4 separate regions of the Homo sapiens genome follow, and all the other regions are linked to region 1. The links come from fine-mapping of genetic effects on gene expression. A gene starts in region 1. Each other region holds a variant in brackets. All regions are shown on one strand. Distances are from middle to middle.

The links. PIP is the estimated chance that this variant, and not a neighbour inherited with it, causes the effect.
Region 2: its variant is fine-mapped to the expression of ARHGAP24 in whole blood (INTERVAL, PIP 0.96).
Region 3: its variant is fine-mapped to the expression of ARHGAP24 in whole blood (TOPMed, PIP above 0.99).
Region 4: its variant is fine-mapped to the expression of ARHGAP24 in tibial artery (GTEx, PIP above 0.99).

Annotation. Positions count from the first base shown.
Region 1 is chr4:85,473,513-85,476,200 of GRCh38, forward strand. ARHGAP24 (Rho GTPase activating protein 24) reads left to right here and starts at 1,638. Exons shown (of 10, transcript NM_001025616.3): 1 at 1,638-2,047.
Region 2 is chr4:85,627,171-85,629,858 of GRCh38, forward strand. All of the region lies in intron 2 of ARHGAP24 (Rho GTPase activating protein 24), which reads left to right. Among named protein-coding and RNA genes, the nearest start is that of MIR4451, 94 kb to the right of the region's middle. The variant C/T (reference allele first, on the strand shown) is at 1,300.
Region 3 is chr4:85,587,796-85,590,483 of GRCh38, forward strand. The region is part of intron 2 of ARHGAP24 (Rho GTPase activating protein 24); the gene reads left to right. Among named protein-coding and RNA genes, the nearest start is that of ARHGAP24, 110 kb to the left of the region's middle. The variant G/A (reference allele first, on the strand shown) is at 1,487.
Region 4 is chr4:85,796,669-85,799,356 of GRCh38, forward strand. The region is part of intron 3 of ARHGAP24 (Rho GTPase activating protein 24); the gene reads left to right. Among named protein-coding and RNA genes, the nearest start is that of MIR4451, 76 kb to the left of the region's middle. The variant T/C (reference allele first, on the strand shown) is at 1,344.

The DNA.
Region 1 (2,688 bases):
TGTTTTTTTAAATGTCCCCATCTTGAATCATAATTATTGGTACTTGTCTTCCTGAGGCTTTTGAGTCCATCAAATGTGTGCAAATTTCATTTGGGTTAATGTTATTTTCCAGCTTTCATCTGAAACTGCCCATCAGCATTCACCTGCTAGGGTGTTGCTAGAACATGTAAGGCCATGTGGGTTGATGAAGGTAATTTATTCCCACCAATTGGAAAATAAGCTACATTACTTCTAGCTTAGGAATTCCATACATATTTTTAAAATGAAATATGAAACGCAATTTTTTCCCCACACAAATTAATTTGATTCATTAAAGGGCTGAGAATTCTCCCACCAGAAAATCAAGTTTATAGTAGGACCTCAGCATGGGATGGGGTAGATTCGTTTCTCCAAGAACTTGGAGAAAGAGGACAAAAAGGAAAAACATATCAGTGTCCACTCAGCCTTTTATTTTTGGTGTTTCTAAAACTAAACATTTGCTCTTCTTCCATATCCCTCTCTCACTGGAGATCCCTAGTGAGGACACCCCCATTCTGTGTCTTAAGGATATCTGGTGATGATTTCTAAAAGAGAGTTTCTTTTATTAGTAGTAGCAGTAGTAATTGTTCGAGACGGGGGTGTCACTCCGTCACCTAGGCTGGAGTGCGCTGGCACAATTATAGCTCACTGCAGCCTTGACCTCCTGGGCTCAAGGGATTTTCCCGCTTCAGCCTCCTGAGTAGCTGGGACTACAGACATACGCCGCCACGCCCAACTTTTTTTTTATTTTTTTAATTTTTTTTTTATAGAGACAGGAGTCTCATTATGTTGCCAATTTTGGTCTGAAACCCCTGGGCTCAAGCGATCCTCCTGCCTCAGCCTTCCAAAGTGCTAGGATTGCATGACTGATCCACTGTAAGTGGGTTTCTAAAACAGAGATCTTTACAAAGCTTTTTGAAATAATTTGACTCAGCATGCCAGGTAACCAGAACTGTAAGATCACAATTTGAAACAGACATTGTGGTGATGGTGGGAAGAGACGGCCTGCATCAAAACAATGTTTACTAGTTTGTCCTTTTGTCCCATATTGTGTAACTCCGAGAGTTCTTACACCACCGTAAGAAAGTAATTATACTTTGAATTTCTCTAAGGCTCTAGTTAGAGAGCATCCATCTAAATGTGCATTTCCAGGAATATTGCTTTAATGGCCCAGGTAATTCTAATTGGAGAAATAAAATGTTAGCGAGACAGAGTTGGTAGAAGCAAGTAAAACCGGTGTATGGGGTTTGGCCAATGAAATGCAGAGCTCCTTGAGGGCAGGAGACATGTATTCACCAACCTTCTCGCGCCCACAGCCCCAGATCTGTGGCCAACAAGTATCTATGATGCACTTGAAAGGAACGAGCGATGCCAGATGCGGAGGAACCAGGCAGGGCGCATTCTGTCAGTGGCGCCAGGCGGTGTAGCTCCAGCTCTCAGATAACCCAGGCTTTGGGAGGGCGGGGCTCCTGCCGGCCTCCCCTGTAGTGCGGCTCGAGTCCTGTGAAGCTACCAGTTGCCAAATGAAATCTGAAACCTCGAGCTGTGTCTGAGGGTTGGCCCCACTCAGTTGTTCCAGCCTCTTGTACTGTATATTTACACATTCACACACAATCACCCTTTCTAACTTCTGGGACTCTTTGCGCAACTGCTAGGATTTCTCAAGTGCATGTGGCAACACAGCCCAGCTCCGGGTGGAAACCAGCAGGGCTCTGGAGGGGCTCGGAGACCAGGGGAGCTGTCAAGGCTGCGGCGGGGACCAGAGAGGAGCCTGGCGGGGGTGGCTGGGTGGCTGGGGGAATCCCCCCAACTTCCCATCGCAGGCGCAGCTCTCTCGGCCGCCTATTTCCTCCGAAACCCGCGCTGCGGAGCAGCCCAGTGCATAGAGTTCAACACTTCCCCTTGTTGTGGAAAGTAAAGGAGCCTCACTACCACCTTTTTTTCTTTGCGTTTTCTTACTGCTGGTCCTGGGAGCCTTTTCCTTCGGAGCAGCAGCCCTGTCCGGCATCTGTCTTGAGCTCCCAGCAAGGTAGGTGATGCGGTCGCGAGGAAGTGCGCGGAGCTACCGCGGGAAGGACGGACGCGGCTGCCTGCGCCAGGGGAGGGGGCTGCGGGGGGCGGGGAGGGGGCTGCGGGGGGCGGGGAGGGGGCTGCGGGGGGCGGGGAGGGGGCTGCGGGGGGCGGGGAGGGGGCTGCGGGGGGCGGGGAGGGATCGCAGGAATCCCGTGCTGATGTAGCCTGTCTGTGTTTGTGTGTGTGTGTGCGCGCGCGCGCATGTTTGTGCCGGGAGACAGCAAGCTGGTAGTATGTCTTTCTGGCTTTAAAAATAGATGGAATTAATAAAAACCCTTTGTACAATTCAATTTCCTCTCTTGGTATCCATCCTCCCCTTCCCCTTGTTTGTTTCCTCTAGTATCTTATAGGAGTTCCCTATGTAACAGGCGCACAAAGATAGGTTTTAATAATAAGCATATATATTTGCAAAAATATATATTTTATATGTATAAAATATGTTTTAAAATATTTATAAATATATTACATATTAGAAATATATATTATAAAATATATACATATATTTGTAAACACAAAACGTTAGGGAATCTTTGGTGAATTTGAAGCCACTCAAAAGATTTTGTCCAAATGTTTTTAAAAATAACATTTAATGATAAA
Region 2 (2,688 bases), 150 kb after region 1:
TTTCTGCTCTGTTTTTTCCCCATCTTTGTGGTTTTATCTACCTTTGGTCTTTGATGATGGTGACGTACAGATGGGTTTTTGGTGTGAATGTCCTTTCTTTTTGTTAGTTTTCCTTCTAACAGACAGGACCCTCAGCTGCAGGTCTGTTGGAGTTTTCTAGAGGTCCACTCCAGACCCTGTTTGCCTGGGTATCATTAGCGGTGGCTGCAGAACATTGTATATTGGTGAACCTCAAATGCTGTTGCCTGATCATTCCTCTGGAAGTTTTGTCTCAGAGGAGTACCCGGCCGTGTGAGGTGTCAGTCTGCACCTACTGGTTGGTGCCTCCCAGTTAGGCTCCTCAGTGGTCAGGGAGCCACTTGAGGAGGCAGTCTGCCTGTTCTCAGATCTCAAGCTGCGTGCTGGGAGAACCACTACTCTCTTCAAAGCTGTCAGAGAGGGACATTTAAGTCTGCAGAGGTTACTGCTGTCTTTTTGTCTGTGCCCTGCCCCCAGAAGTGGAGCCTACAGACGCAGGCAGGCCTCCTTGAGCTGTGGTGGGCTCCACCCAGTTCCAGCTTCCCCGGCTGCTCTGTTTACCTAATCAAACAACTAACTGGGCCATGGCAGGTGCCCTTTCCCCAGCCTGGCTGCCGCCTTGCAGTTTGATCTTGGACTGCTGTGCTAGCAATGAGTGAGACTCCGTGGGCGTAGGACCCTCCGAGCCAGGTGCGGGATATAATCTCCTGGTGTGCCGTTTTTTAAGCCCATTGGAAAAGCGCAGTATTAGGGTGGGAGTGACCCGATTTTCCAGGTGCCGTCTATCACCCCTGTCTTTGACTAGGAAAGGGAATTCGCTGACCCCTTGCGCTTCCCAGGTGAGGTGATGCCTCGCCCTGCTTCGGCTTGCACATGGTGTGCCGCACCCACTTTCCTGCACCTACTGTCTGGCACTCCCCGGTGAGATGAACCCGGTACCTCAATTGGAAATGCAGAAATCACCCATCTTCTGCGTCGCTCACACTGGGAGCTATAGACCGGAGCTGTTCCTATTTGACCATCTTGGCTCCTCCCCCTTAATTTCTTCTTTGACTATTGATTGTTCAGGAGCATGTTGTTTAGTTTTTCTGTATCAGAATTTTCTGAAATTTCTCCTGTCATTGATTTCTAATTTCATATTATTGCAGCTGGAAAACATGCTTGATATGATTTCAGTCTTCTTAAATTTGTTGTCTCAATTTGTGGGCTAATATATTCTATTGTGGATAATGTTCCATGCATGCTTGAAAAAGAATATGTTGGTGTTGGATGGAAGGAATA[C/T]GGCTACTGTTGGATGGGATATTCTGTATCTATCTGATAGGTTCATTTTATCTGTGGCGGTGTTCACATCCACTGTTTCCTCACTGATTTTCTGTCTGGATAATCTGCCCATTATTGGTAGTGGGGTACTGAAATCCTCTATGATTATTGTATTGCTGTCTATTTATCTCTTCAGTTCTCTTACCATTTGCTTTATTTATTTAGGTGCTCTGATGTTGGCTTTACATGTATTTACAATTATTATGTCTTCTTTGTGAATTGACCCTATAATGACCTTCTTTGTTTCTATGACAGTTTTTGACTTGCATTCTATCTTATCTAATGTAAGTATAGACACTTCTGCTCTCTGGTAATACATTTGCATGAAATATCTTTTCCTTCTTTAATTTTAATCTATATGTGTCTTTAAAGCAAAAGTGAGTTTCTTATAGGCAAGGTATGGTTGGTTGTTGTTATTTATCCATTCAGCTATTCTATGTGTTTTGACTGGAGAATTTAATTCATTTATATTTGAATTTATTATTAATAGGTAACTTTAATTTTTTCCACTTTATAACTTCTTTGTTCTTTCTCTCTTGCTGACTTCCTTTGTGATGTGATGATTCTTTTTGTAGTGGTACGTTTTGATTCTGTTGTCTTTATCTTTTGTGAATACACTGCAGGATTTTTCTTTGTGGTTACCACAAGGCTTACAAAGAACCTCTTATAGTTATAACAGTCTATTGCTAGCTTATAACAAGGGAACTTCAACCACATACAAAAATCTTTATACTTTAATTTCTCCTCCCCTCATGTAGCATGTTATTGGCATCACAGTTTATGTCTTTAATATATTGTGTATCCATTAGCAAATTACTGTAGCTATACTTAATACTTTTGACTTTTAACATTTACACTAAAATCAAGTTATTTATATACTATCTTTATAATAATAGAGTCTTCTGAATTTGACTATATTCATAAATTCATAGTGAATTTTATACTTACATATGTTTTCACATTGTTTGTTAGCATCATTTTGTTTCAACTTGAAGAACTTCCTTTAACATTTCTTGTGAGACTGGTCTAGTAAAAATTAACTCCCATAGTTTTTGTTTGTGTGGGAAATTATATCTCTCCTTTGTTTCTGATGGACAGTCTTGCCAGGTATCTTATTCTTGGTCAGCAGTTTTTTTTATTTGAACAGTTTGAACATATCATCCTACTCTTTTTTAGCCTACAGTGGTTCTGCTGAGAAATCATCTGATCAGGTTTCCTTGAATGTGATGAGTTACTTCTCTCTTACTGCTTTCCAAATTCTATCTTTGTCTTTGACTTTTGAGAATTTGATTATAATATGTCTCAGTGAAGATCTCTTTATATTTAATCTATTAGGTGTTGTTTGGGCTT
Region 3 (2,688 bases), 110 kb after region 1:
ATGTGATATATCCCAGGTATGCTTGATCTAAAACAAGTCACTGCTCTTGTGAAGCTCGATTATGATGGGGGAGACAGCCATTTAACAAGTAAGGAAAGTAACCTACTATGAGGAAAATAGAGAACTAGACAGACAATACTGGTGCAGTGGTGGTCATGATAGTAGGGCCTATTTAGACAGAAAGGAAGGGAAGGTCACATTTAAATTGAGATCTAAAGAAGAAAGAAGACTGTCATGCAAAGAGAAGGAAGGAAGGATATGCTGGGCTGAGGGGATAACATGCAGAGGGAAAACAGGCCTGTGGGCTGGTAACCTCATCACCAAGGGATTTCTCAGTCATCCCTGCCTTTATCTTGAACACACTGTCAGCCTCACCAAGAGGCAGAGTTGCTTTTCTTGATCAGCCAGTCACTAAATGCTATGCATGCACATGATTGGGTTCTTCACAGAAGCCTGCTGTTGCTTTTTAATTGTTGACGTTTTGTGCTTGCTAAATGCTTCTTGCTGCCTTTTAATGTAATAGTTTTCATTTGTTGTTTTAAGAGAAAATAAAAGCATGTTTCATGCCTTTCTGCCCTTCCATGATTCCCTTCTTCATTCTCTGCCCAGCCTGGAGGATGGGGGTGGAAATTAGTGGCTTTCTCATCTGAATTCTGAGTCCTGCAAATATCTGTTTGATAGCACTTTTCATGTAAGGTCGCTATTAGCTCGCCTGTCTTATTGTGACCCCTTGAGTCCAGGGACCCTCTCATATAGCACATTGTGTGCACACAGTATGCACTCAATTAATGTCTATGGACTGAAGAAGTACCATAAATTCATTTTGGACGTGGGCATCTGATTCTTTAAAGTGTAATGATGATAAGAAATTCATTACAGAGAAGTATATATTATTGACTTCTACTTTTCTTTCTGAGATAGTTTTAAATAAGTAATTAAGAGTTTAAAATAAACAAAATTTTTATTTGATTTCTAAGATTTCAACAATTTTAGTATTTTATTATCAATACAAAGTTTCTAACATGCATAGGAAGAGTATGAAGACAGTTATTGTTGAAGACTTTGTACCCTGAATACTAAACCACTCTTTCTGCTCCATGAAGTTTCTAATTTAATGTTGAACTGACTTGAAATGGAGAAGCATAAAAAGTTGGCTCCTCTCTAAAGGCCATCAGATAATATTCTCAGAGGTAAATCACCTGCAAGGTGAAACTTGTAGGTGAAGACAACTTTGTAAAATAAATTGCATTGGGCCTCAGAGATGTGGGCATATAATGAATAGAGATTCTGTAAACTTCACCACCTCCTTATAGTTTTGCAGAGTGAAGCTTCTGTGGGTATTTGCATGTAGGTGAATTATGTCTGATAACAAACAGAATTGTGATCTGGCCGATGTCAGAGTCCTAGCAGTGGATTTTAGTCCTAACTGCCACCTAAAGCCTGGCCAGTTAATGACTCTGGATCCTCATTTTCTCATCTTAAACCA[G/A]TAGAAGATTGCATTGGGTTGACATCTAATGTTTCTTTTAGCTTGAAATTTTGATAGTTCTTGAAATGTGTATTTTATTCATATGTCATTCATTATTTTAGCCTTTTAACACACATATACAAAACTAAAACAAACAAAAAACACAACTTGCCAGAGGATAGGAGATGGTAGGACTGATTGACTTGACTAGGGACAGGAATTTTTATTTGTTACAATTAATATTTGAGTAAGTTCTTTTTCTCATGTAATCATGGTAGTGACCATTTTGGGACCATGCCTGAAAACTTACTAGGTAATTAATGAGTCTGGTTCCTGTTAATATCTTCTACATCTCCGGCCAGAGATATATTTTTTGTTTCCTTCGCTTCCCAATATCAAGCTATCCTTTGGGTCCTTTCTTTTGAAACTAATAATTCCTCTTGGGATATAGCTAGAGAGATCTCTTTGGCTGGAGCATCTGCCATTAGGTCAAAATACTTTAATAAATATGTGCAGTACATACTAATCCTATATGTTAAAGAATTCTTTCAAAATAGATTCAAGAGTTTAAAAATAAAATATGGATTTTTTATTTTACAAAATAATTCCTTCTTAATTATAAGTCTGGAAGTTGGATCTGATATTTTTCAAAGCCATTGCTGCACATTGCAAATTTTCATGCCATCCACATTTTTGTTTGACTAATTACTAATATGTGCATTTTGCATGTTAATTTAGATTATCCCTCTTTTAGAAGAAAAGGAAATTGTTCTTAAAGTAATACTTACTGTGTAATCACAAGACAGTGAATTCGTAACACAAAGATGCTAATGTTTAGCAAATGATTGTTTAATGTAAATGAAATGTTAATTTGTTTGGAATGAGAAAACTAACTTTCTTTCTGCCTGCCTGCCTGCCTGCCTGCCTGCCTGCCTTCCTTCCTTCCTTCCTTCCTTCCTTCCTTCCTTCCTTCCTTCCTTCCTCCCACCTCCCTCCATCCCTCCATCCCTCCCACCCTTCCTTCCTTCCTTCTTTCCTTCCCTTCCCTTCCTTTCCTTTTTTTCTCCCTTTCTTCTTTCCTCCTTTTTATTTTTTATTTTATTTTATTTTATTTTTTGAGATGGAGTCTCGCTCTGTCGCCCAGGCTGGAGTGCAGTGGTGAGATCTCGGCTCATTGCAACCTTTGCCTCCTGGGTTCAAGCGATTCTCCTGCTCCAGCATCC
Region 4 (2,688 bases), 320 kb after region 1:
GTACTCTAAAGAATATAAGAATAGCAGATCTAAGGAGCAGCCACTACTTCTGTCGGGGGGAATTGAGCACCCAAGGAAAAGCTCATACCCGAGGCTGAGATCCAGAGCTCTCTGGAGACGCTATGGCCTTGACTCACTAGACCTCACGGTGGTGCTGTGCCCATAGAATTTTCTGCCAAGTCCTCCTTCATTTCATGCTTGAAATTAGCCCTCCAGAGTGCCAGAAAAATTCATGTGGAGGTATCTCACTAGAGGACTCTGCTACGAAACTGCTTTGTGAGGAGGGACTGCAGAAGCTGGGCACTGAGGAAGGTGTGTACACTGGAGGGGCTGGGTGCTGGAGAAGCTGCCTGTGCTGCAGGAGCCTGCGGAGCCAGCATACAGGCTCTAGGAAGCAAAATCCCATTTTCTTCTGCAGTGTCTCTCTATCGCCCTCTACTGATGATAGAGTTTAGCATGGTAGCAGCTGGGAAAGGAAAAAAAATTTTTTTTGTTTTTTTTTTTGTTTTTGTTTTTGTTTTTTGAGATGAGTCTTGCTCTGTTGCCCAGGCTGGAGTGCAGTGGCGCAATCTCGGCTCACTGCAAGCTCCGCCTCCCGGGTTCACGCCATTCTCCTGCCTCAGCCTCCCCAGCAGCTGGGACTACAGGCGCCCGCCACCACGCCCAGCTAATTTTTTTGTATTTTTAGTAGAGACAGGATTTCACCGTGTTAGCCAGGATGGTCTCAATCTCCTGACCTTGTGATCCACCCGCCTCGGCCTCCCAAAGTGCTGGGATTACAGGCGTGAGCCACTGCGCCCGGCCGGCAAAGGAAACATTTTTAAAGGGACATATCCATTTTCACAGAGCAGGCAAAAGGATTAATTTATAGCTAAGGTGGACTGATCTAAATATTCAAATGATGTTAGCAGGATTTGCTTTTTCTCCATTTCTCAGCATTGCTTTCTTCTGGGTAGTTTCATTCTAGGCTGGCTGCCTCCATATTATGGTATGAAGAATTCAGCAGAACAAAATTTCTCTTCTTGTCAATTGTCACAAAAATCCCAGAAGTTAGTATGTTGACTCTAATTAGCCTGAATTGTGCCACATGGCATCCCCAAAGCCAGAAGATGTGTTATTATTTTTGACCTCATTAGATATTATGCTTTCCCAACCCTGCCCTCCTCAGAATGCCATTATCAGACTAAAGTAATTATTTCGGAGGGGAAAGGAGGGGGGCAAAACAACCTTGAATAAATAGAGACACAATATCTGAAGAGCAAAACTACAGAATTTACTGCATGCCTTAAATGCCTTATATCCTGTTGGGCTTTATTTTTAAAATCATTTTACAAGGTTCTAGA[T/C]CATAAAAGGAAATTAAAGTCATCCAGCTTAGTCAAATCCCTTGAGTTTACTACTAAAAAAGGAAATTCAATGTTTGTGGTTTCAAACCTAGAATTTCTGTTAAAACTGAATCAAAAAGTTGCAAGATATAACTTCTTTTTTAATGATGAGGGGCCCCATCTACTTAACTAAACATATTCCCCGAGCAATAGTGGTATGCCTGTGTCATCTGATATAACTCAACAATTTGGATGGAACCCAAGGCATTATGCTCAGTGAAAAGCATATCTCAAATGGCAACCTACAGAATGATTACATTTCATATAAAATTCTTAGAAATGGCAGAATTATAGTGATGGAGAACTAATCTGTGAGTGCCAAGAGTTGGGACTGGGGAGAGAGTGTGACTATAAAGGAGCAAGAAGGAGCTTTTTGGAGTGATCAGACAGTTGTGTGTCCTGATTACCATAGTGGTTTCACAAATCAATATGTATGACAAAATTCCACAGGACTGTACACCTCCCCACAATGCAAAAAACATGAGTGCATGTAAAAACTTGCAAAACTCCAATAAGGTCTGAGTTTAGTTAATAGTATTGTGCAAGTGTGAATTATGTAATACTGGTTTTGCTCATTTTACTATAGTTTCCAAAGATGTTATCTGTAGGGGAAGCTACCGAAGTTACAGAATAAATTTTTGTACTATTTTTGCAACTTCTAAATGAGGGTAAAATTATTTCAAAATAAAGTTGGCAAAAATGATAGTTAAAAATTGTAGCAAATTGAGGGAGATTTTCTGGTAAGAATCGGGAAACAAAGTTCTTTTTAATTTTTTGATTTTTTCATAGCAAACAAAAAAGTATTAATAATTAGCTTGGATATAGAAGAAATAAAATGGGTGCTTACACTATTCTAAAAATGAAAGATATTTTAATAATATTAGGCTTTAAAAGCAAAGAAAACAATTACAAAAATGCATGCAAATAAAGAGGACAGAAAATTAGAAAATTAGTATGAACCACCCTATGGTACTGAAGTCAGAGATATTAACATGGAATAATTTTTTAAAATATATGCTGAGAATTGTATGTGTGCACATGAATTAGCATAACATGCATATATTTCCTAGCTGTATACACTGAGAGAGGCTGCAAAGTGTGAGGCCCCAGTAACAGTGAGCACACTTAATGTCCAGATTTTGGTTTCTAAACATCATCTTTCAAAAAACAATAACTAGAATGCCTTGGAGAGTTCATTGATTCCAGGGCAGGTGCAGAGAATCTGGGACACCTTGTGTACCAGATTTTAAGGATTTGCTAAGAAAAAAAAACAAAAAACAAAAACAGTGGCATATTGAAAGGGCCC